Regions from separate parts of the Homo sapiens genome. Here region 1 is linked to region 2. The links come from fine-mapping of genetic effects on gene expression. A gene starts in region 2. The other region holds a variant in brackets. All regions are shown on one strand. Distances are from middle to middle. Region 1 overlaps CFAP251 (cilia and flagella associated protein 251). Region 2 holds the start of CFAP251 (cilia and flagella associated protein 251).

Region 1 (2,912 bases), 70 kb before region 2:
AACCTCCCTATTAAATGGAGAGGAACACGATATATTTGAACTGGGGCCATTCCTTGTTTTTATAAGCAGGCTCCTGGTGGGGGCAGGTTTGCTTTTCTAATGGTTTCATGGACCAGTAGGACTGGGAGCACTCACCCTCTTCCCCACGCCCTCTTCCCAACGCACAATACCCTCTAGAACATTCTCAACTAATGGGGCACAGTGTCTTGTTCCCACTCATCATCTTCACTCATACCCTCCCCTGGTCACCCCCTGCATCTCCTCGCTGACCCGGGGCAGGGAGTAGTGGGCTGAGGAGGGGGCGTAAGGGCTGGGCAGCGTCACTGCATGGCCACATCTGGAGACCCCTGTGAGCGCCCCCTCTGCGATTCATGCAACACTGTGACCCCAACTGCTCCATACCTCCCTCCAGGAACTAGATCTGGATGGCGACTGCCTCTTTTTCCAGGAGTGGGGCATGCATGCACAGTTCTGCCCTCTGGACGCAGTCTCAGGTGACAGCAGCCAAGGCCTGGCCTGGTGCTCTTGCCCACTGTCTTCTACTCCATGTGAACAACACCCATTCACAGGGCCCTTTAGAGTGACTGTCACCCTGCCCTGCATCAGAGCCCAGGTCTCAAACACCTCCAGGGACTCTTCCCTTCCCAGTGAATGTTTTCAAAGGTCTGAAAGAGACAGTCCTAGCTGAATGACAAGTCTTGCACCTTGTACCAAACCCACAATCAAGGATTTGCTAATTCTGTGTCCACAGCTCTCTAAAATCCTGATCCTGCCTCATGCACCCTAAAGCCCCAGATGGTTCCTAGCTCAAGTGAAGAAGTGATGTGGGCCGGGCACCGTGGCTCACATCTGGGATCCCAGCACTTTGGGAGGCCAAGTTGGGTGGATCATTTGAGGTCAGGAGTTCAAGACCAGCCTGGCCAACATGGTGAAACCCCATCTCTACTAAAAATACAAAAATTAGCTGGGCGTGGGGGCGGGCACCTGTAGTCCCAGGTACTCGGGAGGCTGAGGTGGGAGAATCACTTGAACTTGGGAGGCAGAGGCTGCAGTGAGCCGAGATCGCGCCATTGCACTCCAGCCAGAGGGAGATTTCATCTCAAAAAAAAAAAAAAGAGAAAAAAAAGAAAAAAAAATCCAACAACAACAAAAAACTTGCACACGAATGTTCACAGCAGCCTTATCCATAATAGCCAAGAAAATGGGAAAACGTAAATGTCCATCTGTTCGTGAATGGATACATAAAATGTGGCATATCTACATGAACGAATAGAATGTTACTCAATCATAAAGAAAAGAATGAAGGACTGAGACAAGCTACAACCTGGATGAACCTGGAAAACATGATGCTGAGTGAGTGAAAGAAGCTGGACCCAAAAGACCACATATTTCATGACTCCATTTATATGAAATGCCAAGATAGGCCAATCCATAGAGACAGAAAGCACATCGGTGGTTGAAGGAGAAATGGGAAGTGAGTGCTCATGGGTCTGGGGTTTCTTTTTGGGATGATAAACATGTTCTAGGATTACGTGGTGGTGATGTCTGCAC[T/C]ACTCGGTGGACATTCTAAAAACCAATGAACTGCATCCTCTAAACAGGTGAATTACGTGGTATGTGGTATATCTCAATAAAGTTTTTTTTAAGAAAAGAAAATAAATAATATGGAGAAGCCATGGCAATGGCAAGTAACAACATTTCGATTCTAAGAACATTAATTTAATATTTTTGAAATATTTTTAAAAATATTTAAAAATATTTAAAATATTTTTAAAATATATCTTCCACCATCATTGTGATCTACCCTTTTATATCATAAAACCAGTCAAGAGTGAAACATGCTTGTTATGAAAAATTCTAACAATGGAGATATAAAGAAAAATAATAATAAAATGCCCTGAAATTCCCCGTCCTGCAGCAATAACCAGTGTTGGATGCCAGAATTTTTAGGGTTTTCTTCCTTCTTTGTACCAACTCATACATACGTAGGAACAGAACCTGGAGTTGGGGGTCAGCCAGCTTGGTTCAAACCCTGGCTGTGCCCTCGGTAGCTAAGTGACTATACAATCTTTCTTCTCTCTCTAGGCCTCACTTTCCCAGAATGGTATTATGCATTACTATTACCTGTATTCTTTTTTTTTTTTTTTTTTGAGACGGAGTCTCGCTTTTCTTGCCCAGGCTGGAGTGCAATGGTGCCATCTTAGCTCACTGCAACCTCCGCCTCCCGGGTTCAAGCGATTCTCCTGCCTCAGCCTCCCGAGTAGCTGGGATTACAGGTGTGCGCCACCATGCCTGGCTAATTTTTGTATTTTTAGTAGAGACAGGGCTTCACCATGTTGGCCAGGGTGGTCTCGAACTCCTGACCTCAGGTGATGCGCCCACCTCAGCCTCCCAAACTGCTGGGATTACGGGTATGAACCACCAGGCCTGGACTCTATCGCCTGCATTCTTTTTAATGGCTGCATAGTAATCCAAGATTTATTTCTTTAAATGCTTTACATGTGAAAAGCAGAAATAGTTTTGTCTTGCTCTGATCTTTCTGCAGGAAGCCCACCTCTCGCTGGGCAGGGGCCTGGCCACGGACTCTCTGTTGGCCAGGAAGGCCTCCCCTAGAACACTGGGCCACTTCTATTACCTTCAGGATGGAAATGCCTGCTGATATTTACGTTTCAGGGCAAGACCCAACATACTGAGGGCTTCTCTTCAAAGTGCAAATTTCCAAATTCCCTCGGGGTCTTTATCAGAACAGAAATTGTCCCTGTGCTTCTTGGCTCAAATTACCCCCCTCGTTATGGGTGAGGCTGAACCACTTGGCTACAGACCTCCATCCCAGCTGGGACCCTGCTTTAGCCATGAAGATTAGCACACAGGGCTTTGGGGGGATTTGCTTGTTTATCTTTCTCGTTTTTGTTCTG
Region 2 (2,912 bases):
ACGATCTTGGCTCACTGCAATTACTGCCTCCAGGGTTCAAGCTATTCTCCTGCCTCAGCCTCCCGAGCAGCTGGGATTACAGGCGTCTGCCACCACACCCAGCTAATTTTTGTATTTTTTCAATGGAGGCAGGGTTTCACCATTTTGGCCAGTCTGGTCTTAAACTCCTGACCTCAAGTGATCCGCCCGCCTTGGCTTCCCAAAGTGCTGGGATTACAGGCGTGAGCCATCACGCGCAGCTGGGAAATCTTAAAGTATATGTATTTGTGGCCCAGATCTTAAAAATACTGATCCAGGGCCTGTCAACTTTCTGGGAATAAACACCTTGTAGCCTTTTTACTCATTTAAAATATATTTATATTCCCACAGGCAGCAAAATGCATAACCCACATATTAGCAACAATTCTAGAAACAGGAATACGAGAAGAAGCAGGGTAGCCTAGTGGTTAAAAGCAAGGGCCTTGCTGTCAGCTTGTCCTAGCATTGAATCCCATTTCCACCACGTACTTGCTCTGTGACCTTGGGCAAGTCACTTTACCCCTCAGAGTCTGCATTTTCTCATGGGCAAAATGAAAAGAATAATCCTAAATTCTAGGGTTGTTGTAGAGAAGTGATAACATATATAAAATGCTCATCACAATTCTGGCACATACAGCTTGAAAAAATGGTAGCAGTTGTTATTATTTGAGAGAAAAGCAACCCTAATGTGCAAAGAAATGAACAGTTTGAAAGCCTTCTGGCATATTCTCCATTTATTCCTTACAACAAACAAGAGTTTGAACTAGGAAAACAATAAGGATGGATACTTTATCCCTAAAGAGTTGGACCCCGAACAAAAAAAATCCCTACATTTTCAGTGACATTAGAATAAGAGAACTCAACACTTTGAAAATAAAGTCCCAGAGAGTACAGAGTAGAAAAGGTATTTCTATTTCTTAATTTCTTTCTCAGCACTAAATGTATCAGCTCCTCAAATTCATCTCTGGTAAAAAAAAAATAATAATAATAATAATAAATAAATAATGAATGGATAAATGAGTTTGAGGCTCTGAGAGGTGAAGTGACTTATTCAAGATGACACCGCTAGTAAGAACGAGATTTCTCTGGCACTTAGTTTCTCCAGCTGAAAAATCACTGCTCTGAATCAAGTCTAGGGCTCTCACCACCGAGCCTCTTTTGACTGAGCCCAACTTCGCCGGCGCGTCTGGACAGCCGGGTTCGAGCCGCAGGGGTTTGGGGCAGGGGTGCCAGGTGCGTGGCTCTGCGAGGGGATTAAAGCCCAGGTGCGGCCTCTGCCTCCAACTCAGGTCTCCCTGGGGCCGCCCCAGGCCCCACAAGGGCCAGGTCGGGTGAGCGCCCCCCAAGGGGCACCAGACCCCGCCAGGTCGGGGGCCCCCTCGCCAGGGCCGCGTGGCCTCCGCCCCGGACTTACAGAGAGCACCCACCCCGGTCTTCAAAAGGCCAGAGTCGTCCCGCCGCCTGGACCCCTCAGCCACCTCCCGGGCCTCCTTCCAGCGGCCGCCACCTTCTCCACCAGCTCCCTAGTTCTGGTTGCCACCCAAGCTCCGTCCCCATGGCAACCGCCACCGCCGGAAGCGACAGGCCCTAAAGCGACAGGGCAGGGCGGTGGTCACGTGCCAGGAAACGGTGACGAGCGTGCCCGACGTGCCTCCTGCCGGTCGCTGGCGGCATAGACTTTCCTCGCTTTTCTGTCCTTCCTCCGCTCGCACGATCCCACCTTTTCACATGGTCCCGTCCCCTAAGAAGCTGCAGCGGCCAATACTGCCAATTTTTACTTTCCGCAACCTTGGCAAGATGGGGTGGAGAAGTATGAACTCGGATACAATGCTCTTTTCCAAAAGCAAACTGAATTTCCAGGTCTCATGGATGCAGCACACAACCGTCCTGCCTGCCTCCTCACCGGGCACCGCGTGTTGCAGACAATTCCAGCTGGCTGGGGGCAGATATGACACAGGGTGCACCAGCTTGCGGTTCTCAGCACAAAGCGTTTCCGCAAAACCGGTCTGGCTATATCTATTAGGATCATTCCACGTCAAAGTGGCTCTCCACTAACATCTCATGGAAGACGGCAACAGGTGGCCACACGGGTTTCCACTGGGACCCCTGCAGGAAACCAGCCAGAGCCACTGAGGCAGAAGGCTCTCTGCTGCTGTCATTTTAGGAGAATGTGAATAATTCTCCCCGCCCACACTGCCATGCCCCAGTGATGGTAAATTGATTAATATGCATACATCTTAAAATAAAAAAGAAAGGATAAACTGGGCAAGCTGTGTTTATTATAGTCTGAGACTTTATAAAAGAGACTGGAAAATACGTGGAATTAGAACATGCAATTTAAACAGCAAACATTGGTAAACACAGCATGTCTGTGGCTACCAGAGGGGAATACGTATGGCTGTCAGGTCAAATAGAGTTTGAGGGAATTCGCCCAATAGGAAGGCTTTGGAATTGAGTGTGAGAACCTGTGGCTGGAAGCACACAGCAATACCAATCCCATCAAGGCAAGCTGGTATCTGTATCCAACCACAGCAAAACCAGTCCCAAGGAACACAGGGCTTGCCTGGCAGAACTGCCAAAACAGAAAGCGGTGTGCAAGAACTGGGGAAATGAACACTGATACCATGGAGAGGAAAAAATAATTCAAAGTATTGGCAGGAATCCCTGAGAACCATTTTACCATCTTAAAAGAGACAAAAAATAAAAGGGAGGAAGAATAAGCATTTTCAAGAGGTCTGATCTACTCGTTCCTATCCATACCTCAGCGGTTTACAAAATAGCGCTGATCTCAGGGCATAGCCAGGAGGTTCAATTATAAAAAGTCAAACTAGCAGTGGGCTGGGCGCAGTGGCTCACGCCTGTGATCCCAGCACTTTAGGAGGCCAAGGCAGGAG

What was found.
Region 1: its variant is fine-mapped to the expression of CFAP251 in esophagus mucosa (GTEx, PIP 0.96).

Annotation. Positions count from the first base shown.
Region 1 is chr12:121,986,951-121,989,862 of GRCh38, reverse strand. All of the region lies in intron 19 of CFAP251 (cilia and flagella associated protein 251), which reads right to left. Among named protein-coding and RNA genes, the nearest start is that of BCL7A, 33 kb to the left of the region's middle. The variant T/C (reference allele first, on the strand shown) is at 1,552.
Region 2 is chr12:121,917,229-121,920,140 of GRCh38, reverse strand. It overlaps CFAP251 (cilia and flagella associated protein 251), which reads right to left and starts at 1,549. Exons shown (of 22, transcript NM_144668.6): 1 at 1,446-1,549. PSMD9 (proteasome 26S subunit, non-ATPase 9) reads right to left here. Exons shown (of 6, transcript NM_002813.7): 6 at 1,844-2,912. RefSeq lists a silencer at 1,271-1,420.